4 linked regions of the Homo sapiens genome follow. The protein of the gene in region 1 interacts with the protein of each later gene in a pairwise test. Each region holds a gene or a part of one and is shown in the gene's direction. Other genes may lie near its edges.

Region 1 (7,029 bases):
CCCTGCCCTCCTGACCTGGAGTGTTCTGGGTAGGAGTCTGCCGGGGCTGCTCCCAGGACAGGGACAGGGGAGGCTGTGAGGGCCATGCCGCTGCAGTGGGTCTTGCTGGCTGCCACCTGTGTCACAGGCCCTGTTAGCTGGGTGGAGCCTTCCAGAGCCAGGACCCCAGGGCACTCTCAAACTCTGGGCAGCTGCCAGAGGCTCAGGTGCTTGGCAGACACTGTCTACCCCTCAGGGAAGAGCCTTGGTGGTGAGCCTGGCCTGCTTCCAGGAGCAGAGTAGGGACACTTTGGCCACTTCCCCCTGGGGCCTGGCTCTGGCGTTTCCAAGACTGCTTCTCTGGCAGCCAGCTGTCTCCCTGTGTTCTCTTTAGAAAGCTCCTCCTGAGCTTGGATAAACTGCAGGAGCGAAGGGGCTGACCGTTTGTCGGGACGCAGTTGAAAGAGTCGCTGTGTCCTGCTCCGGGCTCTCCTGCTGGAGAGGAGAGGCTTGCACGTGCCTGTCGTCTGCGCAAGCTTTGAAGCTCAGACTTGGTCTCTGTTAGGAGAGATGGTGCGCTGCGTCCGGCAGGTCCTCCCATGCTTGGGAATGCGGGAAGCGGGGAAATGAGGAGGTGGGCTCGGACGTGTGGGGGGCTGTGCTGGCTGTCCTGGGAGGCTCTCTGCCCGCTGTTAGTGGCCAGCTCCCCAGGTGACGGGCCTGGCCTCCAGGTCTCCAGCATGGCTTACTGTGGTGTCTCCTGAGGGCTTCCTCTCTGCAGGGAAGCCCACCCAAGATCCCTCTTACTGGTCCCATGGGGCAGCTGCCTCCGTAGCATCCTCGTCTCCACCAGACCCCTGCAGGGTGCCCAGTTCCTCCCTGCAGGGTGCTCCCTGCTGCAGTGTGGGGTGCACAGAGGTGGGCAGGGCCCTGGGGCCGGAGCTCCCGTTGGTGAAGGAAGACGGATCCCAGCCAGGGCTCTCGGGTTGATCAGCAGTAGGAGGTGGCCCCTCCTGCCCAGTCCCACCCAGGACATGGGCTGGTGGCTGGGCTTTCAGCTGTGCCCAGCTGCCCTTCGCAGAGCTTGCAGGGTTTATGAGGTGGCTCTGGTGAGATTAGGGGCAGGACACCTAGTGTCTCCAGCCGAGGAGTGAACTGGGTGGAGGTCCTGTCCTTGTGTGCACATTGTGGGAGAGTCAGTCTGGGAGGCCTTTGTAGCTTGTGCTGGGGCCCTTGGGTGCCAGCCCTGTCTTGACGGTGGCTCCTGCTGAGAGAGAGGCCCTGTATTAATGTGAGCCCTGGGCTGCCTCCCCCTTGAGGGTCCTTGTCATCTTCCGGGCCTCCTTCAGCAGACCGGACACAGGGGCAGTGCAGGTGAGGGGCTTGGGGGAGCTCCTTGGCAGCTCCAGGGGATGCTTGTGGGCGCTGGCTTATCTTGTCTCAGGCTACCTTGCTCAGGTGACGACAGGGTGGGTGGATTTGGGAAAGGTTGGCTCAGATAGTGGTCCCTGCTTGTCCCCCAGGGCCTGCCTAGGCTCCAACTGACAGTAATCCCAAGAGCTCCCCTTTCAGGGGATGACGGAGTGACGTCACCTGTGTGGACTCAGCTGCCACCTGGGATTGTGGTGGCGGCGGGTCTGTCTGGCGCTCAGCTTCCATCTCCACCAGTGTCACCTCCACACCACCTCGCCAAGCAGCTTCTGGAAAGGCCCCCGGCCGCCCCGGGCTGACCTGCTGCTGTGTCTGACCCGGTTAGTCTTTCTGGCTGCCTCTAACCTTGCTGCTTTTCCTTCATGCTGTCCTAGGAGGCCAAAGCAAAGTAAGTACTCGCCTGTCCTCATGCCCCATTCCCCTTCATTTGACCGGGGAACCCCCAGCCCTCGCTGCACCTGAGGGAACCCAGCACCACCTGCGCATGGCCCAGTCTGCCCAGAGGGCCTCAGTTTCCCATCTGGAAAGTGGAGGAATTGGGTTTTCTGGATGGGGCAGCAGCAGGTGGGCACCCTGTGTGGCCGTGAGCAGGGTCCTGTCCTGGGCTGGCGGGTCAGCAGCTGACATGCGGCTCCCTGCAGGGAACAGGTGGCAGTGCCAGGTCTCGGTAGGAGCCTTGAAGTGGCTTCCCCTCCCTGAGCGGCGGCTTCTGCCCGGAGCCCCCAAGAACATAGTCTGAGGCCACTTTGGCCAATAAAGTCTGGTAGGGCATCAACACTGGGGGCCAGCTCAGTGGCACTGCTGATGGGACCTGCACGGCTCCATGGGAGCAGAGAGACTGGTGGGGGTACCACCGCACGATGTCACAATGCCCTGTCTCCTGGGCTCTTGCTCCCACCCCACCCCCAACCCACAACCCCTGCCTCTGCCCATCAGCCTGGCCTTGGTAAGTGCTGCCCCAGCCTGGGGAAGGAATGAGCAGGGGAGCCTAGGGAGCGTCTTCATGGGCCCTGTGGCCTCCCATGGGCCCCGGTTCCTCGTTGGTGCCATTAGAACTTGTTGCTGGGACTGCGGGATTCGGGCCACATGCCCGCAAAGAACTCCATGTTCCACTTAGAGGCTGCAGAGTGCAGTGCCAGGGGTGCCTTCCCAAAAGTCCTCCCTGCCTGGGTGGAGCGTAGACAGCTCAGCACCCCACGGGGGGCGTTGGAGCCAGCCTTGGTTTTGTTGGGTAAGGATGTTAGAAGAGGGGCGAAGACCCATAGCCACTGGTGTGAAGGGTCTGCTCTTGACCGAAGGCTGCCTCCCTCTGGGTGCAGACCAGGCAGGTGGTCCCAGTCACGGTGCCCTGGGGCCACTGGGTCTGTCTGCCCTCAGGCTCCACTAGACACACCTGCGGAGGCAGCAGACTAGCAGCGGTGTCTGTGAGGGGCAGCTGCACAGCCCCCTCTTGAGGGTGCTCCTAGGCGTTGGTTAGGCCCAGGCGTTTCTGCTTTTGGGGAGCAGAGCCTGGAGTCGGGCATGGCTGGGGAGGAAGCTATCGCAGGCTGAGCGCGGGCTGGGGTGCTGACCTGCATCCCAAGAGCAGATTTGCCCCTGGCCTTCTGGGCCTGTCCTTTCTGTAACACCACACTGGACACCTGGGAGCAGAGCGTGCCCCCGGCAGGATCCCACATGGCTGCTGGAGCACTGGGGCAGCAGGTGACTGAGGTCGCCCAGAGCTTGAGGGAACACCTCATCCAGGGAGGAGGCTGAGGCTCCCAGGCCACAGTAGCAAGTGGGGAGTGGAGCCTCACAACCTGCCTCCCACCAAGATGGTCCCTCTTAACATTACACAGAAGCAAAACCTTAGAGGGGGCCCTGATGTCCTGGGACTGTGAGAGCCCCATGATTCCCCTTTAGCTTGGATGGACCCAAAGGTATGGACTCCAGCTGGGAGGCGGGGGCAGCTGATAGAGAGCCTAGAGCCGTCTCAGTGCTCCAGGCGCTTGGCCCCTCCTTTCTACACAGTGGTCACCAGCATCCTCCCTGGCGTCTCCTTCATGAGTGGGCACTCCACCCTCTGCCCGGCCACCTGGCCCCCTCCTGGGGAGGACAGTCAGGCCCACAAAGAAGCTCCCTCTTTTTTTTTCTTTTCCCCTGCTCTGTTGTCCAGGCTGGAGTGCAGTGGCGCCATCTCGGTTCACTGCAAGCTCCGCCTCCCGGCTTCACGCCATTCTCCTGCCTCAGCCTCCCTAGGAGCTGGGACTACAGGCGCCTGCCACCACGCCCGGCTAATTTTTATTTTTATTTTTAGTAGAGACAGGGTTTCAACGTGTTAGCCAGGATGGTCTCAGTCTCCAGACCCTGTGATCCGCCCGCCTCGGCCTCCCAAAGTGTTGGGATTACAGGTGTGAGCCACCGTGCCTGGCCGAGGCTCCTTCTTTTGTAAGAACTTTGAGGGTGCTCTGGGTGTGGCAGTGGTGTGGCCAGGACAGCCACAGAGACCGTTCTGTAGAATGGGAACACCAGCCACCATGGTGGGGTGGCCAGGCCTGGCCTGTGGAAAAATGCAGGGAAAGCTAGTTAGCCAGTTAAAGCTTATTTCAGATAAATGACGAAAAATTTTTAGTGTAAGTATGTCTCAGATACTTCATGGGCCATACATTCACTAACAAAATTATATATTGTTCATGTATTGGGAGGCACTTGGCCTCCCAGAGTACTGAGATTACAGGCATGAGCCACTGCGCCCGGCCTGTTTTCTCTTCACAACAAAACGTCCCCACATGGGCTTGACTTCGAAGTCCTCGAATGTCATCTCATGGAAGCCCCACTGGGGAGCATCCTCAGCCCCTGCCCAGGGAGGGCAGCCACGGGGAGGGCGGGCACGGGGAGGGTGGGCACGGGGCTGCGGCCACCCGCTGTGTTGCAACTCTGCCCTCTGCTTGCTTTTTATCGCTGTGTCCGGAAGATGAGGAGCGGGAAGGCCTCCTGCACCCTGGAGACCGTGTGGGAAGACAAGCACAAGTATGAGGAGGCCGAGCGGCGCTTCTACGAACACGAGGCCACACAGGCGGCCGCCTCCGCCCAGCAGCTGCCAGCCGAGGGGCCAGCCATGAATGGGCCCGGCCAGGACGACCCTGAGGACGCTGATGAGGCGGAAGCCCCTGACGGCGGCAGCAGGCGTGATCCCAGGAAGAGCCAGGACAGCAGGAAGCCCCTGCAGAAAAAGAGGAAGCGCTCCCCCAAGAGCGGGCTCGGCCCCGCGGACCTGGCCCTCCTGGGCCTCTCGGCCGAACGCGTGTGGCTGGACAAGTCACTTTTCGACCAGGCAGAGAGCTCCTACCGCCAGAAGCTGGCAGATGTGGCTGCCCAGGCAGCCTGGCCTCCTGCCTTGGCCCCTTGGGGTCTCTGCACCCATGGAAACCAGGTGGCCTGCCACCACGTGACCTGGGGGATCTGGGTCAACAAGTCCTCCTTCGACCAGGCTGAGCGGGCCTTCGTGGAGTGGTCTCAGGCCCTGTTGCTGGCCCCCGACGGCAGCCGCAGGCAGGGGACTCCCAACACAGGCCAGCAGGTGGCCGTCCCCGACCTGGCCCACCAGCCCAGCCCACCGGTCAATGGCCAGCCCCCGCTGGGCAGCCTGCAGGCACTGGTTCGGGAGGTGTGGCTGGAGAAGCCCCGGTATGATGCAGCCGAGAGGGGCTTCTACGAGGCCCTGTTTGACGGCCATCCCCCAGGGAAGGTGCGCCTGCAAGAGCGAGCCGGCCTGGCCGAGGGTGCCCGGCGGGGCCGCAGAGACCGGCGGGGCCGCAACATCTTAGGGAACAAGCGGGCCGGGCTGCGACGGGCCGATGGGGAGGCCCCCTCTGCCTTGCCCTACTGTTACTTCCTGCAGAAGGATGCAGAGGCCCCCTGGCTCAGCAAGCCTGCCTACGACAGCGCCGAGTGCCGCCACCACGCTGCCGAGGCCCTGCGGGTGGCCTGGTGCCTCGAAGCTGCCTCCCTGTCTCACCGACCCGGTCCTCGGTCTGGCCTGTCCGTGTCCAGCCTGAGACCCAAGTAGGAGAAACGTGCTGGGTGGGCACCCAGCCTGGGCTGTGGGCACAGGGACAGCCATCCCAGGCTGGGGCTCCTCCAGCTTCCTCCCCTGCCCACCTGGGGTGGGGGCTCCCCGAGACCCGTGGGCCCAGCAGAGTTGAATGCAGGAGCAGGCTGAGTAAAGGTGGTGCTGCGCTTGTGGGTTCCAGGGACACTGCTTGAGGTTACAAAGTTCCAGGCTGCCTGGATGAGGGCAGGGAAGGGCTCAGCACAGGGCAGAATCTCTGCCTTGCCCAGGGTCCCTCTTTGGCTGGGAAGCTCCCCAAGTCCCCTGTGGCTGTCACATGCCAGGGCTGAGAAGATAAGGCTACTTATAGGGGCGGGAAGCATTGAAGCTGGTTTCTGGCCCTAGCGCTCCCCTGCGATGAGATGTGGGAGCCAGTGTGTCCCTGCCTGTCCATCCTGTGCACCCCCAGCTTTCCTTGTCACCTGAAACCACCTCTGAGGGAAGGTGGTGGCGTCTCAGATGCATGGGCATGTGGCTGGTCAGGTGGCCTCCATCCCAGGGTGCCCCGTCTGTGTGACCTCCCTCTGGGTGCTGTGGGCTTGCTCCAGGGTGCAGGTGCAACCCCAGCAGCGGTCTCTGGGGCCAGGCAGGTGGGTGGACGATTGGACTTGGAGGGGAATACAGAGGGCATGGAAGTGGCGAGGCTGGCCTGTTGGCGAGGGTGTCCTGGTGGTGGGGCGGGCTGAGTCAGGGAAGGACTCTGAAGGTCCCAAGCAGCTGCTGAGGCCCCCAAGGAAGTGGTTCCAACCTTGGACCCCTAGGGGTCTGGATTTGCTGGTTAACAAGATAACCTGAGGGCAGGACCCCATAGGGGAATGCTACCTCCTGCCCTTCCACCTGCCCTGGTGTTCACGGTGGCCTGGTCCCTCCTTGCCGAGAGAGTGTCCTGGGTCAGGGACGCAGAGGACGCTCACAGACTCCAGCCCTTTGTTACCGAGAGGACACTTGGCAAGGTCCAGCGATGGTCCGGAGTCCACACACAGACTGGCGGCAGGGCAGGAGGGGGACAGTTCTGTTGTGCTTGGTTGGACAGTAAGAGGGTCTTGGCCAGTCCAGGGTGGGGGGCGGCAAACTCCATAAAGAACCAGAGGGTCTGGGCCCCGGCCACAGAGTCATCTGCCCAGCTCCTCTGCTGCTGGCCAGTGGGAGTGGCACGAGGTGGGGCTTTGTGCCAGTAAAACCACAGGCTGGATTTGCCTGCGGGCCATGGTCCCTGTCTAGGGCAGCAATTCTCAACCTTCTTGCTCTCAGGACCCCAAAGAGCTTTCATTGTATCTATTGATTTTTACCACATTAGCAATTAAAACTGAGAAATGGGCCGGGCACGGTGGCTCACGCCTGTAATCCCAGCACTTTGGGAGGCCGAGGCGGGTGGATCACCTGAGATCAGGAGTTCAAGACCAGCCTGGCCAACATGGTGAAACCTTGTCTACTAAAAATACAAAAAATTAGCCAGGCACAGTGGTGTGCACTGGTAGTCCCAGTTACTCGGGAGGCTGAGGCAGGAAAATCGCTTGAACCCAGGAGGC
Region 2 (7,029 bases), on another chromosome or scaffold:
CATGACATTAAATTTGCTTCAGTTTTCAAAAATCATGGACACTTAAAGTTTCTTTCATGAAACACCCAGATCATCTTTTAATTCGAGTACATGAATTTAAGTAAAAAACATGTGCATAAACTTATAAATCCTGTAAAATAGAACTGCGGATTTTGGCAGATCATAGCAGTTGCATGAACACATTTTAAAATGGTATTTAAACCTGTCCTACAATGAATTAAGTATAGAAATGTGGTAATTGAATTAATACTAGCACAATAAATTATTAATAGGCCAATTTCTTGATACTCTCAATTACTTCTACTTATTGATTTAATTGAGATGAGTTTCACAATCCTGAGAACTGTTGTTTTTCCTCCTCTGGGTACAGTGAACTATGGGATCACTAAAGTAGAAGGACAGCCCCTTCACACCGAACTGAATAGAGCTATGGACAACTGTAACAGTCTCCGAATGTCTCCCGTGAAAGGGATGCAAGAGAAGGGAGAGCTGGATGAACTTGGGGATAAATGTGATAGCAATGTATCCAGCAGTAAGAAACGGAGGCACCGAACCACCTTCACCAGTTTGCAGCTAGAGGAGCTGGAGAAAGTCTTTCAGAAAACTCATTACCCGGATGTGTATGTCAGAGAACAGCTTGCTCTGAGGACAGAGCTCACTGAGGCCAGGGTCCAGGTAGGAGCCAAAAAGAGGCCTTGATGGATGGGATAGGAAAATAAATGGTGTTAGAATAATTGAATAAGTGCATTTTGCCACAAAGAAACAAACTGATTCCCTAGCTGAAGATGAGAAACGGAGTAATATATATGAATATATGTCTACTAAAATTATTTTTTAATTGCAAAAATTTTGACAACTCACGCAATATGTAAAACAAAAGAACACAAGTTATTACAGAGACATAAAAATTAACAATCATTCAAACATAACAATATGATAATATATCTCTGATTTTCAAAAGCAGTTTTTAAAGGATGAAAAGCAGAATCATGACTATTTAGTAATTGGTATATTTATTTGTTTTTTTTTTTTCGGTTTTATTAGCCACTAAGGTTCTTTTTTAGATTATATATCAGGTATTTGTAAATTATTTGTATAATAGCCCATACATCTAGAAATTTCTAGATTTGGAGGCATAATAAAAAAAAAAACAATCCCACAAATTCCCAATTGTTATGTATACCATGGAATGTTTTCACTATGGATAATTAAAAACAAGATCAAATAGTGCTCATTTACAATTTTATAGTCCTAGTAGTTGTCAACATGTAAATATTCCATTATAATGGTTAAAGTCTAGATAAATCATATGAATTTTGCATAGGCAATAAAAATAATGGCTTTAAAGTAAATTTTTGTGTATACTCAATTATGTTTATAAGATATATTCTAGTTATTAAATTGGATGATCCAATATGCTTAATTTTTAAAAATAATTTGAGAAAGAAAAATCATACCAGGTAAAATTTTACCTCTTAGGAGTACTTTATTTTGACTACATTTGATATTCTTAAACTATATTTTACTAGTTTCCAAGTAGTAAGAGTTTAAAATGCAACAATAATTCAGGATAATGGCCTTGGTCTTTGTGTGTGTTCTGACTCCTCTACAAAAGTATTGATTTTTGCAATTCCCATAAACTGCTAAAATGGGGGAATGAATAAAATAGTGAAAATTTTTGTTCTAAATCGAGTAACGGTATTTCTTCTTAAAATTGTAAGGCTCTTACATCATTAGAGACAACATCTGGTGGCACACGGATAACAAGCAGCAGATTTTTACTTGAGTTTGTGGAAGCAAATGGTTACTTTATCTTGGTTCAGGAAGTAAATATGTAGAAAGTTCATGCTAACAAAGAATTTTAGAATTGTCGAGTATTAACACCCGCTGTGTAAGTTTGAGATTTTTGTCTTTGTCTATATTTAAATTAGTTATACTTGTAACCATAAACAAATATGTTTGCACACAGAGTGACCAACTGTACATAATGCATCTTTTCCCCTTAACATTCACCAAGTCTTGATTAATTTTTGTCTGAGAACATGCACAGAGAGCCAACTTGAACTTAATTTACTCAGGTCGTTCTCTTTCCTGCTTTGCACATAAGAGTGGTAACTATTACTCATTTTAAGGAAATTGTCAAGTTCTTTTTGTCAATGGAAAAAAAAATAAAACCCAAAAACGTATTACTAAATTCCCTTAGTGTGTTCCTGGGGCTCATCTGCGGAGACAGCAAGAAAATTTGATTTGTTTTTTGTTGTTGTTGATGTCTTGAGCCTTGGCATAATGGATAATATGCATTTATCAGCAGTGTACTAAAACTATAATGAACATGTAGCTCTCTGGCTCATTTCAATTGCTGAAAACTCTGCAAAGTGCCATCTTAAATTTGTAATGTGTACTAAAAAATTAAACTGAGTATTAATATGTTGCCATAATGGTGAAGGTAAAGATATACAAGATTAGAATTGAGTATGAAAAAGAGTGAAAATTTCAAGTAAACTTCAACAAAAGGCTTTTACAACTTGCATTTTTTATATTTGATTTCTAGCCTTTTTCCTAAATATTTTATATTCTGAACATAATTGTGTGAAGAAGACTAGATTCCCAAAAGCTACTCCTATAATGTTCATTTAAAAACATCCAAGTATATATATTGAATATAATCTTCTGCATCTCCCTTTAATATTAAAGTGAAGATATTGGAATATTACAGGTATGAATTAATGAATATCCAACCTGCTGAGGAAGATGGTTCTTATAATAAATACTTCTAATAGGTAATTAGAGAAATTGTGGAAGATAGCTTAGTGACCTTAGCTGCCACAGTAACTGATAGACTTTCTTGACACTTGGTTCTATCTGCCCTATTTCTTATATTATTTCCATTACCTGTGCTTTAAATTAGAGAAATTACGTAAAGATATCCGAGCATTTTCATAAGGGAAAATAAGTTGCATAATGTATGTAATAAGCACATTCACGTATTTTAAAACCATAGTTCAACTTTAGATGATTCCTTTTTACCTATAATTCTTGTCATGCTTATTATAATATGTAATCTCATTTTTTCCTATTTCTAGATAATCATGATGTTCCTGCTGCTGCCATATATTTAGGTGTAATCTTTATGTTTAAAATTTTAAAAGATTATGTAGGTATGAGCACAACTGAGAAGAGCTTTCACTTTTGTGATATATTTTAAAGATAAGTTTTAATAGACTCAGATATTAATTTGCTTATAGATTGACTGAGTTTACGTTACGGCATATACATCTTCCAGACTTGCAGCATTCTCTTAAAGGAGACTTATCCATGACAATGTGGAGATATATGGAGTATTCAGGATCATATAATCTAATTGCTTTTTGTTTTCCATAAATGAGAAAACAGAGGCTCAGACGTATCAGATGTATTTCCCGAAAGTCTCCTGCCTCTTTCTATTAAATTATTTTGTCTCATGGGAAAATCACTTACCACATCAAGATACAAGAAAAAGTAAAATCTGTGGATCCTTTTCTAACATAAATACATTTCTTTTTACGTAATTTTTTTAACCTGGTTTACCTTTCTTGTTTGATGTCTTTTAACATCACATTTGCTTTATCAAATATTCCTTAGCTAAAATTCTAATTTTTATTAAATAATTAGGTTTGGTTTCAAAATCGAAGGGCCAAATGGAGAAAAAGGGAACGTTATGGCCAAATACAACAAGCGAAAAGCCATTTTGCTGCCACCTATGATATATCAGTTTTGCCAAGGACTGACAGCTACCCACAGGTATGCTAAACTACACAGAATACTGATCAAGAAAAGGATATTTGGTTTGTATATTCTTAAAATGGTTAGCATAGGCTTTATTATATGTAAGATAATAGCCAAGAATGAAAATCTAAGCTTCAGAAAACATTCTTCATGTCTGCTAAGTTTTAATTTTTCTGAATTATTTTCTTGTTGTTTTCTTACAGAGTCATTCATTTAAAAATATTTCAGGGTATTTTTTTCTTTTGAATTTTGTTGTATATTGCCACCAATGAAATAGCATCATTTAATGATACAGGTATTTTAATTATCCTACATTCTAATTACTCAGACTCTCTTCCTTTTGTTAACTTTTAAAAATACTGTAAATAGAGTGTTGCTTAGCATGCAATCTCTGTGGATATTGTTTTATGAACTATACTAAAACCTGATGTCAAATGTGGCCTATTAAGCCCTTAACTCCATTTAAAAATGTGTCTCTTTTTCTATGTTTTTTTTTTTTCAGTTTTCAAATTGCTTATTCTCTAAAGGTCCACATTTGGTCCTGTTTGACTTAAAACAGAGATAGAATTAGTATCAGACATAATTTTAAAAGTTAATCACAGATGAGTAACAGCTTCCCTTTATAATGGGTGCTCTTTTACTTCATTACAAAAAGTGTTAGAAATTCTTTTTCTTCTCATTTTTCTTTTTCAATATAAGACTATATATTTCTTTTTCATATTTTGTAATGAATGTAAATGTTTGTCTTTCTAATTTATTTTGTGTCACTTTTTCCTAATACTTAATAATGATATTCAGAACTGTATTTGATACATGATGAAAAAAAACCTACGTTATAAGCAACGAGCTATGCATTATTTTGTTATTTATTATTTAATGATATGCATTATAAGAGACCCATGTGAAAACACATATGAAACATATATGCTGGAGAAATACCTTGATAGTTCACTAACTAGATGATCTGAACCCCAAACTTGAGTATTCATTTTCTTCAACACTATGAGTACAAATTCAGTTCTTTAATGTTGTTCTTTCCTTGTGTTCCTATGCCTTTTATGATTCTTAAAAACCAGTTTTAGAAACCTCACTCCTCCAGATAAATCCCCCAAATTTATTAATATAATATTATATGTTAAATAAAAGAAGTCTTGGAGGTCACCTTGTTCAACTCCTTCCTTTAAAAAAGTTATGAAAACGGGCTCAATTGAGTTAAGGAATTGGTTTGTGATCATACAAGTGGGTTCCTGCAGGAGAGACTGTAAAGGTCGCTACGTCTAAACCTTTACCCAATGGCTTGCTAGAAGACTATTCTTATGGATACCTTTTCAATAAATGCCTCCTATCTCCTTGCCATAGGAGGAATCTTGTTTCTCTTTTAAAATTTATCTTAAAGAGGTTACCTTATGTTTTCTCCTATTTTAAAGCATGAGGCTACCTCTGGTGGTTACTTACCATCATAGGGCTAGTCAAATTTTGTTTGCCAAATATTTTTGAGTGCCTTAGTTGAGTCAGTGTGAGTTAGTTTGAGTGCCGTTAGTTTCTAAACAAAATTCTGTAAAAATCTTTCCCCTCTAGGCTGCAAGCTCCATGAGGACAGGGACTGCAGTGTCTTCATGGTTATTAACACTACAGTAGCCCTCACTGTATATCTGGGCACTGTTCTAAGCAGATTACATATATTATCTCATTTAATCCTCACAACAACCTTATGTGCTAGGTGTTACTAATTGTCTCCATTGCTCAAATGAGAAAGAGGTAAGGTGAAGTTCAGATTTGACCAGAGACAATTTGGTTCCCACTTGCCAGATTTTAACCTGACAATAGACTGTCTCTACCTGTGAATATATTTAAATGATACCAAAGGAGCATAAAGTTTGAGCTGCATTATTGTAAGTCTGCGCTTTAGTGTCAGGAGCCACAACCAGAGAAATAACAATAAAAATATAGGTGAAATGGAGAATGGTTTATATCATTTTGAACTACTTGACTGTGGTGACTTTAGACGTAATAAAGTAACAAATTATGAGCTCTTCACATGGATTTTAAACTCTTACTAAGTATATTCCACAACACTTGACTATGACTACTTTTTTGTGCATTTTATTCTTTCAGTCTTCATTTCCTTTCAAACCCCATTTCTGTCTGTTTTCAACTTTTCTGTCCCTGTACGTTGGTTGTTTTATATTTGACTCTTCTTGCTTCTTTGATAAAGCAATCAGAATAGGGCCTAGCATCAATTAAGACCTATATAAAGGGTAAAGCATTCAGAATAGTGCATATTCTGAATCTAAAACTTTATACAGCTTTAAGACATGTATAAATGCTCAATATGACTCAGTGTACTCTGAGTAACCATCTCATTTCCCTAAGATTATCTTACCATTGTGTTATTGTACCTCAAAGCTTTATATATTATTAATTAAAAGAATGAGGTAACCTAGACACCGATGGAGGAACGGACATGGTACACCAAATTATATATTTGATCATCTTTTTCACTCCAATGAAAAATTAATTTAAAAAATTTCCCCCCACAAATCATGGGAATGTTGCACTAATTATTCCTCATAATTTTGTATACATTGGCTATACCACCTGATAATTTAAGAATGGAGAACATATGTTGGAATTACTTCAACAGTGCCAATCATGAATAATAATAAAAATTAATACCATGAAGTCCATAGTACTTTCTTGTATTGGTAAATCATTTAATGTTTGGTTACCAAAATTTCCGAAATTATGTGGCTGCAACTCCCCACTGTAGATACTGGATAAAGCCGGGGGAATTTTTATTTTAACTTAAATATATACAAGATACTTTTTTAGTTTGTTTGAAAAAATAATTGGGCCAAGATCATGTCTCTCAAGAGTTAGCCTAAATGAAATGTTTTTTTTATCATGGGGCTTGAAAATAGGAACTTGTAATGGGAGAAATAGAAACAGAAGTAGAATCCAATATCTCAGTCTAATAAGACATTGGATTTGGTGACTGTTAATTACAGAAAAAATTATTAATTTCAGAAAAGTTGGAAACTAGAAAATGTTAGAGGCAGGACAGAAATAAAGAATTAGCAATTTGGCAGAAAGAAAAGCCATACATAGAAATACATGAAAAACAGAGATAGTTTAGAAAATGATCTCCTCAAGCCTGCTCAGTATGTACAAGCATAATATGTTTATTTCTATATAGTAATTAATACTTTCTAATATGTTCTAATAAATACTTTGTTTCAACTGGCCGTCTTTTTACTATAGTAG
Region 3 (7,547 bases), on another chromosome or scaffold:
ACTATCTTTCCAAGGATGTTTACTTAGCAAACAGCCTTGGAAGATAGTATCTCTCTCTGGGGCAGAGAAAAGATTTTATTTCCTGAGCAGTATAATAATCTCCCCCTCAGGGATTGTGAACCCCGAAAATTTGAGAAATTTCAGAATTTAGAATTTAAATTTGAGAATTTAGAAAGTTTATTTTGCCAGGTCAGGCATAGTAGCTCATGCTTATAATCCTAGAACTTTGGGAGGCCAATGTGGGTGGATCACCTGAGGTCAGGAGTTCGAGAGCAGCCTGGCCAACATGGTGAAACCCCATCTCTACTAAAAATACAGAAATCAGCCGGGTGTGATGGCAGGTGTCTGTAATCCCAGCTACTTGGGAGGCTGAAGCAGGAGAATCGCTTGAACCTGGGAGACGGAGGTTGCATTGAGCTGAGATTGTGCCACTTCACTCCAGTGTGGCAGTGTGGGCGAAAGAGCGAAACTCTATCTCCTCTGTCTCAAAAAAAAAAAACAAAAAGCAAAAAAAAAAAAACCTGGCGCCGTGGCTCACGCCTGTAATCCTAGCACTTCGGGAGACCGAGGTGGGCGGATCACCTGAGGTCAGGAGTTTGAGAGCAGCCTGGCCAACACAGTAAAGCAGCCATCTCTTTAGTGTGGTAAAATTACAAAAATTAGCCGGGCGTGGTGGTGGCGCTCCTGTAATCCCAGCTACTCAGGAGGCTGAGGCTGAAGAATCGCTTGAATCCAGGAGGCAGAGGTTGCAGTGAGCAGAGATCACACCATTGCACTCCAGCCTGGGTGGTAAGAGCGAAACTCAGTCTCAAAAAGAGAAAAAAAAGAAAGTTTATTTTGCCGAGGTCGAGGACACTTAGCCTTGACACAGCCTCAGGAGGTCTTGACGACATGTAACCAAGGTGGTCAGAGCACAGCTTGGTTTTATACATTTTAGAGAAACGTAAGACATCAATCAACATATGTAAAATAAACATTGGTTCGGTCAAGAAAGGCAGGACAACTTAAAGTGGTCAGGAAGGGCGGGACAACTCGAAGTGGGGAGAGGGCTTCCAGGTCACAAGTAGGTGAGAGACAAATGGTTGCAATGAGTTTCTGATTAGCCTCTCCAAAGGAGGCAATCAGATACGCATTTATCTCAGTGAGCGGAAGGATGACTTTGAACAGAATGGGAGGCAGGTTTGCCCTAAGCAGTTCCCAGCTTGACTTTTCCCTTTAGCTTAATGATCTTGGGGGCCCAAGATATTTTCCTTTCACAGTATGAAGGTTGGGCAGATTTGTTAGCAGCTCCTTCTAAGACACGTGGTTTTGTAAGCTTAGGGTTCCTTGGCTGTGACACGAATGCATGCTGTGCACAGCATCCACCTAAGCTGCTCTGGCATCATCCTTGAGGGACACAGAGGACAGGGGGAATTGAGGCAAAACACGAAGCTTACACTGCCTGCTGGGCCACAAGTAAGAGAGTCTTTTGTCCTTGACCCATACGTCTCATGTCTTCTGCTAGCATCTGTGAGCCTCTGAAACTATGGCAGACTAACTTGATAGTTTGCAAGTAGGGTAAACTTTTGGACCCTCCCCTGTTCTTGACATCTTTACACACACTTGACTGTTAAGTGCCTTGAGAGTAGGGACTGTGTCTCAGTGGACTTTGCTTACCCTGTGGATGACACAAAGTAGTTGCTTGTGGTAGGTAGTAACTACCTACTAATGCCGCTTTGGTCTAAAGGACTTTGGATGTAAGCACTCATATTTATTTACTAAATTCAGCTCTGGAAAAAACTGCCATTATTCCCCTGTTTAGCCACAGATCTTCTTCCCCTGGTCATTAGGTATTGTGTACATTCCTTGGGTTTGCAGAAGGTGAAGCCACAGAGAAAGTGAAGTGCAGGGGGCTACAAATTGCTACAGAAAATTCACATTGTGAATAAGCCCTGCTGCAGGTAGTGGAGGTGACTCATTTATCAGACTGGGTGTTTCGGGGAGGTAGGGTGCTGTGGTGCAGTTGGGATGGAAATGCCGGTCTTTGTTGTTAGCCTCACAATAACATCAAACATACCAGACTATTTCCCAGAAGAGCCAGGATGACTGCAAACCGACCTGTCTGAGCTCGAATGAAGGAATGAATGAGGGCTTCTGGTGCCTGATGTCTTAGAAGTAAATTCTGCTAACCTTTTGCAACATGAGTAAGCCCAGTCATGACCAGGCAAGACAGCTGGCTGGGCTTGCTCATGGGAGGGAAATCTTCCAGGCTGCAGCTTTCATCTGGGTTTTGAACTGTGGAAGCCTATCCTTTTCTGGTTTAGGAGGAGGGTAGAACGTTGAGAGCATTTGAGCAGACATGGCTTTCAGAGCCAGAGAAAGTCAAGGGGGAAAAGGCTTTGCTCAGAGACTATGGCTGATGGCTATTAAAGATCACTTCGTTTCATTTGTCATTTTATAGATTAAAAAAATGAGGTAGGCCGAGCGCGGTGGCTCACACCTGTAATCCCAGCACTTTGGGAGGCCGAGACTGGCAGATCACGAGGTCAGGAGATCGAGACCATCCTGGCTAACATGGTGAAACCCCGACTCTACTAAAAATACAAAAAATTAGCCGGGCGTGGTGGCAGGCACCTGTGGTCTCAGCTACTCGGGAGGCTGAGGCAGGAGAATGGCGTGAACCCGGAAGGTGGAGATTGCAGTGAGCCGAGATCGCGCCACTGCACTCCAGTCTGGGCGACAGAGCGAGACTCCGTCTCAAAAAAAAAAGAAGAAAACCCAAAAAAACCACTGAGGTCTACCGGCGACATTATTGGATAGATGACTGCTTTGGGAGTTCCAGTTGAACCCATTTCTATTTCATTAGACTGCTCATTTTTTCTTTTTCCTTTGGCTCTGTTAAAAGAAAAAATTACAAAGAATTTAGTTTAAACATCTTAACTGGCTTTTAGTTCCAATTCTACAATTGGGCAACGCTTCATTCTGTAAAATGGAATGAATGTTCCAATGAGAAGAGGAAGTTGGTATTACAGACAGAAAAGGACCGAGGAAAGCAGAAACAAAAAGTGGATTAGTTGGTAGAAAGTTACTTTTCTTGTAAAGGTTAAAGAACACGGGACTTCTTCATGCCAGCTAAAACTGACCTGTTTGGGGATTTTTGTTTTGAGACAGGGTCTTACTCCAGCGGGCAGGCTGGAGTGCAGTAGTGGCACCATCTAAGCTTACTACAGCCTCAACCTCCCAGGCTCAAGCGATCCTCCCTCCTCAGCCTCCCAATTAGCTGGGACTACAGGCGCCAGCCACCACGCCCGGCTATTTTTTTTTTTTTTTTTTTTTTTTTTGGTAGAGGCAGGGTATTACTATGCCTAGGCTGGTCCGGAACTCCTGAGCTCAGGCGATCCGCCCACCTCGGCATCCAAAAGTGCTGGTATTACAGGTGTGAGCCACCGCGCCCAGCCTGTTTGGGGATCTGGCTAGCATCTGTTTCTCTCCTGATTTCTTGGAAGGTCAGATAAAGATCCTAGCTTTGGCGTGGTAGTGTGAAACTTCAGCATGAGTAACCCCATTTTGGTTTGGTCTGATGGGCCTAATGCAGGAGGTCAGTCTAAACTAACGGTCTCCCATATACATTTTATCTAATAGCTCTGTCACCCTTCCTGCACACCCGGGGAACTCGGGTGCGGCATTCTAACGCCTGCTCAGCATGATTCCACATTTTCTCCAGGCCCATAATCCAGAGGAGGTTGGGCCCGGAGCAGGCTTGCCTCGCCAAGCTCCGGCTCCGTGCGTGTGTGAAGCAGTGCCATGCCTGAGTGGGGAGGAGCCGCGGAAGAGAAAGCGTAAGGCGGCGTGGAAATGGGTGGGGCACGCTAGGACCCGCTCACATTTGTTCAGGGAGAGGCAGTCCCAAAAAGCCTCTCAGGCACACAACCCAGCACAGCAAGGCAGTCACACCAAGGTGGGAAAAGAGGGCAGAAGAGCGCGAGGGGCTGGAGGTGGCGCCCCTGTGTCCCACTCGTTCTCCCTGGGCTGGGAAAGAGAAGCGGTCCCTCAGAAGCGCAGGCTGCGCTAGCTTAGGATGGACGTGGGTAACGCTCAGCTGACTCCCCGCAGGCACCCTATGCAGGGCTTTGTTTCGGGGGGGAACCCGCACCAGCGCGTAAGGGGAGTAGGAGAGATCTACGTGACCCTGGTGCGCAGCCGCGCCCTATCGCCCCGGCCACGCGCCGACGCCCCGCCCCGTCCGTGACGCGTTCGCGCGGGGCCTCCGCCCCATCCCCCTCCCAGGCGGTCCCCAGCGCGCTGCCTCCGCCGTTCCCCGCCCCCTCGCCTCTGAGGCTGCCCGGATAGCTGCCTGATCCAAGGCCCAGCAGCTTCTGCCTTCCGGATCCCCACCGACGGACGGAGGCAGCCCACCTGCAGGACCGGGGCGCTGTCGGTCCACGTGGCCGCTCTGGAGCAGGTTGGAGTTGGCAGCGGGCTGCGCTGCAGGGACAGGCGCGGCGGACAGCCCCGGGGGCAGCGGCGGGGTCCTGTCTGGGAGAGGACAGGGTTGCGGCGGGCGGAACGGTGTCTCCTTCACTTCGCCCTCCAGCTGCTGGAGCTGCAGCCCGACCGCGAGCGTGCCAAGCGGCTTCAGCAGCTAGCGGAGCGGTGGCGGCGGCCCCCCTCAGGACACCACCAGGTACCGCCGCGCCCGCCTCACGCCGACCCAGGGGCCTAGGCCGCGGCGGCCAAGCCGGAGGCCCGCGCCGGACTCGGAGTCGGCCCTGGCTTCCTAAGATGGCCGCGCTGCCCCGCGGCCCCTCGCCCCTCTCTGCCCGGGATCTCCCTTTGGCCCTTTGACCCCAGCTTACCGCACTTCTTGTCCCTCCCGCAGATTCCCCTCTTCCCGCGGCCTCGCCATGGCGACCCACGGACAGACTTGCGCGCGTCGTAAGTAAAGCTGGGATCTCTGCGGGATGGGGCGGCGGAGAGTCGAAGCCTGTCGACCAGAAACCCAGTTTGTTTCCCCCTATCTTTCCAAGAACTTGGAAATTCGGCTGCTTTTGGTGGTCGCCCCACCGTCTGACCACCTCCTCTGCGGAGGAGGGGCTGGGCTGCTGGATTTCAAATGGGGAACAAGGCCCGGGGAGTTGGTCTGTGGCCGCATGGACTTTTCAGCCTTTGTACATGTCTTTGACGTATAGAAGTAAAAAGTTGTTAATTGGGGATTCTGCCTTTGGAGGATCGGATCAATCACTTTTCTAGAGGAAGTAGCAGTCCCTCTTGTGAGAGCGCAAGGTCATTACTTGTGCTCCTAAGGGCGTGGACGTGCTTTGTGGAATGAATGAGCTGGTGTAATGAGCTCAGATTGCCTGCCCTTAAGCAGCACAGCATTGGCCGAGGACTTGAGAGTCACATTAGTAAGTTTGAAGCGCTATTTGATATTTAGTTGATGTAGACATTTGAGTGAAACACACATGGCAGTATTTTTTCCAAGTTTCAATATTTAAATTCCCAGTATTAAATTCTCTTCCCACTCCAGGGTGTTGGTTTTCCCCTCAGCGAAGATATTAAAGGACGTATCAGGGTAAAGGGCCTAGTCTTAGGTTTCGGTTTTATCTAATTTAGTTAAATCAGCTCATCTCAGTGAATTTTGGCAGATACATAAATATCCATACACACAAATACTTGTTTGATTCTTTGTACTTGTCCAGTCCTAGGAAGTGAGGCTGTAGGTAATAGACTGTTTTTCCGTTTTGAAACGAATTCCCCAAGTTTGTATAATCATGGTTATCTGTTTTAGAAATAATTCGTTGGTGGTATCTCCTTTATGGGTCGTTATAGTTCTATTGTAGCTCCTGACCGCATAAAAAACATTCCAACAAATGGGATTGCTTGAATTTTAATATCAGCAGTGGGTCATGCTCTTGTTCTTGGATAGAAGGTGGGAGAATAGAGACATTAACACTGGAATGTTTTTTTTCTACCAGCAATGTGTATTCCTCCATCATATGCTGACCTTGGCAAAGCTGCCAGAGATATTTTCAACAAAGGATTTGGTAAGAACCTTATTTTTAAAACGTTTTAGATAAAGAGTGAAAATGTATGTTTGGGTTGCTTAGCGAAATCAGATCAATCATTGCAAATTGTAAATATCTTGCTGCTTTAAATTTAGAGTTACTTATTTTTTTGAGACAGGGTCTCCCTCTGTTGCCCAGGCTGGATGCAGTGGCATGATTATACCTCACTGCAGCCTGGACCTCCTGGGCTCAAGCGATCATCTTTCCTCAGCCTCCCACGTCCCAAGTAGCTGGGACTACAGGCACGCTCTGCCACACCTGGCTAATTTTTTTTATTTTTCGTAGAGGTGGGGTCTCACTGTGTTACCCAGTAAACACAGTGGCCTCTCAAAGCCTGGTTGGATTACGTTACAGACATGAGCCACTGTGCCCAGCCTTGTATTAATTCTTCTATTAGAAACTTAAGATACTTAGATTAAACTTATGTGAAAATAGTTCTTTTACAGTCTACATCCCCCTCCCCCAATTTCCCAAAATTTTTAAAAACTGTACTTAGAAGATTTGAGCCTTTAAGAAAAACGGCTCGTGCTTTAATTTTTTTTCAGTTATAGCTTAGGCCCTGGTTGACTAGAGTTACGATATATTACTGTTTTGCTTTTGTGGTGACTCCTAATACTTTATCTAGAGTTATGAGCTTTTTCAGGTGAATTTGAGTTTTCTTGAAAATTTTGTTCCATACCCTCCTCCCCTTTATTTAGACTGTTGGAAATACCCCATTGGCATAAATGTCCTAAATGTCTGTATTATGATAAGTTGGTTTTGTTTTTGTTTTTTTTTGAGACGGAATCTCGCTCTGTTGCCCAGGCTGGAGTACAGGGGCGTGATCTCGGCTCCCTGCAGCCTCTGCCTCCTGGGTTCCAGCAATTCTCCTGCCTCAGCCTCTCTGGTAACTGGGATTACAGGCACATGCCACCATGCCCAGCTTTTTTTTTGTATTTTTAGTAGAGACGAGGTTTCACCATGTTGGCCAGGCTGGTTTTGAACTCCTGATCTCAAGTGGTCTGCCTGCCTCGACTACCCGAAGTGCTAGGATTTCAGGCGTGGGCCACCGCACCTGGCCATATCATGATAAGTTATTAGCTATTCTGAAATTTCAGTTGAATGATTTTTTAATCTGATATTTAAGTTTAAGAATAGTTTGGGGGCTGGGCGTGGTGGCTCACACCTGTAATCCCAGCACTTTGGGAGGCCGAGGCGGGCAGATCACGAGGTCAGGAGATCGAGACCATCCTAGCTAACACGGTGAAACCCCATCTCTACTAAAAATACAAAAAATTAGCCAGGCGTGGTGGCACGCACCTGTAGTCCCAACTACTCGGGAGACTGAGGCAGGAGAATCGCTTGAACCCAGGAGGTGGAGGTTGCAGTGAGCTGAGATCGTGCCACTGCACTCCAGCCTGGGCAACAGAGTGAGACTCCGTCTCAAAATAAATAAATAAATAAATAAATAATTTGAAAGCATTCTTTTGTGTACCAACTACCAAAAACTAGACAAAGCAGCAT
Region 4 (5,242 bases), on another chromosome or scaffold:
GGGGGTTGCAGTGAGCAGAGATCCCACCACTGCACTCTATCCTGGGTGACAGAGTGAGGTGCTGTCTCAAAAAAATACAGTAGAGTTTAAATGCTGAAGGAGATCAGAGAACACCATTGATCTTCCTCTAGATATGGCCTCACTTTCACTTCATAATCATATTTTGCTGTATACGTATGGATCAGTATCAGTGGTTTTCACTTTGGTTTACTGATAATGGGCAGCTGATCATTGAAAAGCCTAGTGCAGTACTAGCTTAGTAAATAGAGCTGACTGCTGAACTGGTATGCAAATTGTTTTACTAATAATAAATAACTTGGTGTCTTCTATGGAAGGAACTGCTGGAAGCTGTACAGAAACAAAGGCATTCATTATCCTAGTTTTCATAGGCTTCTGTATAAGGAAGAAGAAAAACATAAAGCTATACTGAACAAGATTAGAGTCAACAGTAGACAGAAATTACTTAGAACAGTATAAGATGACTTACCAAAGGGGTTATTCAGACAGTATCTGAGGTTTTTGTTGGTAGAGCAGGGTGTGGGTGGTACATGCCACAGCCTTCTGAAAAATGAGCTACCGCTGATTTGGTAAGGGTGTTCTGCATCCACTGATAGACCTTGAACAATTTACTGTTGTTCTTTTGGTTTGCACTAGGATGCAAAAGAAAGAAATCCCTGCGCTTTCTGTCTGTCTTTGTGGCGGCCCAGATTGAATTGGGGAATACATCTTTAGCCTGGAAATGTAGGCTGCATGTTAATGGTAATGTAACTTTTGCAGTGTAATGTTTGAAAAATATTAATGTAGTTTTTGCTTTTACAGTAACAAATGTGGCAATTATTTTGGATCTATCACCTGTCATCATAACTGGCTTCTGCTTGTCATCCACACAACACCAGGACTTAAGACAAATGGGACTGATGTCATCTTGAGCTCTTCATTTATTTTGACTGTGATTTATTTGGAGTGGAGGCATTGTTTTTAAGAAAAACATGTCATGTAGGTTGTCTAAAAATAAAATGCATTTAAACTCATTTGAGAGAATGCCTTTTAGTTTAATGCATATTTAAACTAAATTGATCCTGTAGTGTTCCTGGAGAAGCTAGAGCCTGATTGTAGGCTACTACTCATCAATTAACTTCTACAGTGGAGACTACTTCTGGGACTGGAATATAAAAAAGAATCAAAGGTTCTGATTTTGAGTTGCAATAAAGGGAAAGACCATGCTCATAGCAGTGCCAACATCTGAAGTGTGGAGCCTTACCCATTTCATCACCTACAACGGAAGTAGTTAACTGGAAGAGATTACCAAGAGAATAAAAAGAGACTCATTCAGTGGAAGCAACTTTGTCTCAGCTTATTTCACATAAAGAGAGCGAAGTCTTTTGGGATGAATGTTAATTAAACTCCCTGGTAACTAGAACAGGGACTGGCAAACTAGCCTATCTGACCACCTGTTTTGTACACTTTAAGGTGGTTGGTTGCCTTTTTAAATGGTTGAGGGGAAAAGAATACCTTGTGGGATATGGAATTTAAGTTCGAGTCCAGTTTTATTGGAACGTGGCTATGCTTATTCATTTATGGATTGACTGTGGCTGTTGTCAGTGCATGAGCAGAGTTGTGTCTAACAGACTAGAGCCTGCAAGTTTGCCAGCCCCTGATTTAAAAGATGAAGGTACACAGAATGTGGGCTGGCTGGTGGGCAAAGGGGTAAAAATGTTCTCTATATTGTATCTGAAAAGATGGGGTGTCTGAATAAGAAAATGCATCTATTTGACAGACCTGGAGCAGTTGCTATCTGCTGCTATGGTTTCCACCACAGATGCAAGAAGAACATGTCCTTGCGCTTTCCGTCTGTCTAATTGTGGCAGCTGAGATTGAATAGAGGAATACAGGAGGAAAAAAAGCGGGAAGAGTTTTTGAGGCAGGTCGGTCACCCAGGCTTGTAGTGCAGTGGCACAAGCAACTCACTGCATTCTCTGCATCCTGTGCTCAAGCCATTTTCCCACCTCAGTCTCACTAGTTGCTGGGACTGCAGGCATGCACCCCTATGCCCAGCTAATTTTTGTAGAGACCGAGTATCGCTTAGTTGCCCAGGGTGGTCTCAACTCCTGGGCTCAAGGAGATCTGCCCACCTCAGCCTCCCAAAGTGCAGGCCTAGCCTGGGAGGGGAATTTTCAAAACGTGAGTTTTGGGAAATAGTCTATCAGCCTTACCTGGTTGATTACACTTGTAAAAGAAAGATTAAAAGCAGGCCAGTGACTCTGGTCTGCTTGAACATGTGAATGTAGTGGTTTGAGCAATCTGGAGTTTGCCCTAGTGTCAAATTCCAGACTGTCCATAGTGTCCAAAACCTGAGGCAGATACTAATGTTAACCCCCAGCACCCCGTGATTGGAAACAAACCTAAATACGTATTGGGAACTTAATAGCAATTTTAAGCATTCTGATAGATTTTTTGTAGGGATGGGGTCATGCCATGTGGCCCAGGCTGGTCTGAAAACTCTGGCCTCAAGTGATCTCAAGCTTTGGCCTTCTAAAGTGTTGGGATTACAGGTGTGAGGCATTGCACCTGGCTTAGCGTTCTGATTTGACATTGTAATGAAAAGTGTGAGTCTCATCTACAGGGCCTTTTGTCCTCTGAAATGATAGCAGGAAGGGAATTTTCAGGCAGTGGTCAAAGCTGGGGAAACCAGGATAGTGAAGAAGGCCTTGAGGTGAGAGATGGAAGCTAATTGGTGAACTAGCCTTGGAAGCCTGAAACAGACAAGTAGCAATTCAGAGACTTTGTGGGCTCCACTGCTCCAACTTGTTTTGAAGATTTTCAGTTCTGCAGAAGAGGTATTTCCCCAGTTGTCCTTTCAGTGCTCTTAGCTGTTTTCCCAACATCCAGATCCAATCAAGGCTGGGACATAGCATTTTATCATGTCTATTTAAGTCAGAAGTGATGAACCCCAGCTGTTTACCTCATGGTAAACCTTTGAAGATTCCAGGTAGAATCTTCTCAGACTTTGAAGACTGTCTCATTTTATATCTTTTTCTCGTTATTCCTAGGGTCAAGACGTTTTGGGCAAGAATAAGGATGTGAACATCAGAAAGCTCATAACATTTTGTTTTTGATGCTAAGTTTAACAAAGGCATGCTTTAGTAGCCTGTGGGCCCTAGGGTTTGTTAAAGTGTGGAGAACAACTGAGTGGAGCAAGAGGACTTTTCTAGGAAGGTCCTTGTAATGTGACATTTGAAAACAAATGAAGGTGTGGAAGTAGGCCATGTGGATATCAGGACAAACCATTCCAGGCCAAGACAACAGCAGTTAGTCTGGAGTGTGATGTGTTCTGGGAAAAAAGTGGCCACTTTGCTAACCCAAGAAGACAGGAAGGGTTGTAAAGCAGTGGGAGTGTGCAAGGAAGGAAGACCAGACCTCAAGGAAACCACAGGCGCTCTGAGCAGAAGAGTTACATGATATGACTCAAATTTTTAAAGGATCACTTTGGCTGCCAGGTGGCAGGGTAAAAGCATAGAATAATTGTGTATAATGTGTTTTTAAGGCAAAGATAGTGGCTTAGTCTAGGGTAGTAGACTGAGGTGGTAGGAAATGAAGATAGAGACAACAGGATATGCTGGTGGGTGAGGATGGATTTAATGTTGATACAAGTATTTTGGTCTGAGCGTTTGGAAGAAAGTTGGCACTGAGGTGGGAAGTCGAGTTTAGTTTTGTTAGTTTTGGATGTGTTAAGTTTGAGATGCTGATTCTTCAGAGAAGTCTAAGCTGGAGAACTATATAGAGAGTGGAAAGATAACAATAGACATTGAAAGCCATGATACAGGATAAGGTCATTTGGAGAGAGGATAGACTGCATTCCAACATGAGATTGGTTGACAAAGAGAAACCAACAAAGGTAATTAAGAGGTGCTCCCACTGCACTTGTACTCAGAAGGCTGAGGTAGGATTGTTAGAGGCCAGCCTGGGCACCACAGGGAGACCCCATCTCTAAAATTTAGCCAGGAACCATGGCTCATGCCTGTAGCCCCAGGAATTTGGGAGGCTGAGTGGGGAGGATCGCTTGAGGTCAGGAGTTTGAGACCAGCCTGGGCAACATAGGGAGACCTAAAAAAATTAATTGGGCATCTGTAGTCCCAGCTACTCAGGCGGCTGAGCTGAGAGGATGGCTTGAGTCCGAGAGATTGAGGGTGCAGTGAGCTGTGATCATACCACTGCACTCCAGCCTGGGCGGCAGTGAGACACTATCTGAAAAAAGTTTAAAAATTTTAAAAAAGAAGGAACTGCCCCTGAGGTAAGAACCAAGGGAGGGCCTCCCAGAGGTCAGGTGGAAAAAGTTTTAGGAAGGAGGAAGTAGTCAACAGGGTTACCTGTTGCAAAGTACTTAAGTAATATGAGGCCTGATAGTGGTAAACTTGACTACCGTTGGATTTCACTAGTGGGAAAGGAAGTCTAATTAAAATGCACTCAAGAGACTAACAGTCGCAGGCATGAAATACAATACAGGTACATGGTTTTTTATTATGTGTGCATCTGCTTCAGTAATAGGTGTGAATTACTCATTTGGATCATTAGGAGTTTCAAAATCTAGTTAAATGACTAGATTTTTGTTGATGTAAATTCTGTCATTCTGAACTGCAGGGATTGTCAGTAACTTAACTGCAAACTAAACTGGTGATAATTATGGTAAAATTGCAAGACGAGCAATAAATCTCAACCAACTTGAGAGAACACTGATAACAAAGCATCCTTAAGGTTATATGTGTGTGCACACAGGTGGAGTGGAATGACTGGCTGGCAGCAGAATACTCAGTAAAATGGAACTAAAACCAGGAGGATTTACTAATTTACAACTAGTATAGTGATCAGTAATTTACAACTAGTAGGTCACTACTAAAGAGCTCCAGCTTTGTGGCAATTAGCATGTGTTTCTAGAGACTATCCATAAGAACTGTGAGTGCAACTTGAAGTTTCTGGAAACATTTAATATTTCATTATTCCGAAGGAAAAGGCCTTGATTAAAGTGTTTTTAACATAAGCAAGTAAAGTAAAAGGTGCCATAGCTAGGCAGTGGCTCATACCTGTAATCCCAACTACTTGGGAGGCTGAGGAGGGAGAATCGCTTGAGCCCAGGAGTTTGAGCTTGGAGCGAGTTAATGGCTGCAATACTGCACTCCAGCCTTGGTAATAGAGGGAGGTCTTGTCTCTTGAAAGAGAAAGGTGCCACATACCTTCCATTGAATAA

Evidence for each region.
Region 2: the proteins of EEF1D (region 1) and ALX1 interact in binary tests that used the Homo sapiens proteins (3 or more experiments, as listed by UniProt).
Region 3: the proteins of EEF1D (region 1) and VDAC2 interact in binary tests that used the Homo sapiens proteins (3 or more experiments, as listed by UniProt).
Region 4: the proteins of EEF1D (region 1) and TPT1 interact in binary tests that used the Homo sapiens proteins (3 or more experiments, as listed by UniProt).

Annotation. Positions count from the first base shown.
Region 1 is NC_000008.11:143,587,416-143,594,444, reverse strand, and holds part of EEF1D (elongation factor 1-delta), read left to right. Parts: exon of another isoform or gene 1-549; coding exon of another isoform or gene 550-552; exon of another isoform or gene 553-1,784; 5' UTR 1,785-1,798; exon of another isoform or gene 1,799-2,233; coding exon of another isoform or gene 2,234-2,356; exon of another isoform or gene 2,357-3,837; intron 3,838-4,363; coding exon 4,364-5,454; intron 5,455-7,029.
Region 2 is NC_000012.12:85,283,202-85,290,230, forward strand, and holds part of ALX1 (ALX homeobox protein 1), read left to right. Parts: intron 1-370; coding exon 371-675; intron 676-3,651; coding exon 3,652-3,780; intron 3,781-7,029. UniProt on the Homo sapiens protein: Sequence-specific DNA-binding transcription factor that binds palindromic sequences within promoters and may activate or repress the transcription of a subset of genes.
Region 3 is NC_000010.11:75,206,276-75,213,822, forward strand, and holds the start of VDAC2 (non-selective voltage-gated ion channel VDAC2), read left to right. Parts: upstream 1-4,520; 5' UTR 4,521-4,663; intron 4,664-4,858; 5' UTR 4,859-4,883; coding exon 4,884-4,914; intron 4,915-5,206; exon of another isoform or gene 5,207-5,308; coding exon of another isoform or gene 5,309-5,384; intron 5,385-5,954; coding exon 5,955-6,023; intron 6,024-7,547. UniProt on the Homo sapiens protein: Non-selective voltage-gated ion channel that mediates the transport of anions and cations through the mitochondrion outer membrane and plasma membrane.
Region 4 is NC_000013.11:45,332,966-45,338,207, reverse strand, and holds the end of TPT1 (translationally-controlled tumor protein), read left to right. Parts: intron 1-598; exon of another isoform or gene 599-654; coding exon of another isoform or gene 655-732; exon of another isoform or gene 733-819; coding exon 820-822; 3' UTR 823-4,737; downstream 4,738-5,242. UniProt on the Homo sapiens protein: Involved in calcium binding and microtubule stabilization. Acts as a negative regulator of TSC22D1-mediated apoptosis, via interaction with and destabilization of TSC22D1 protein.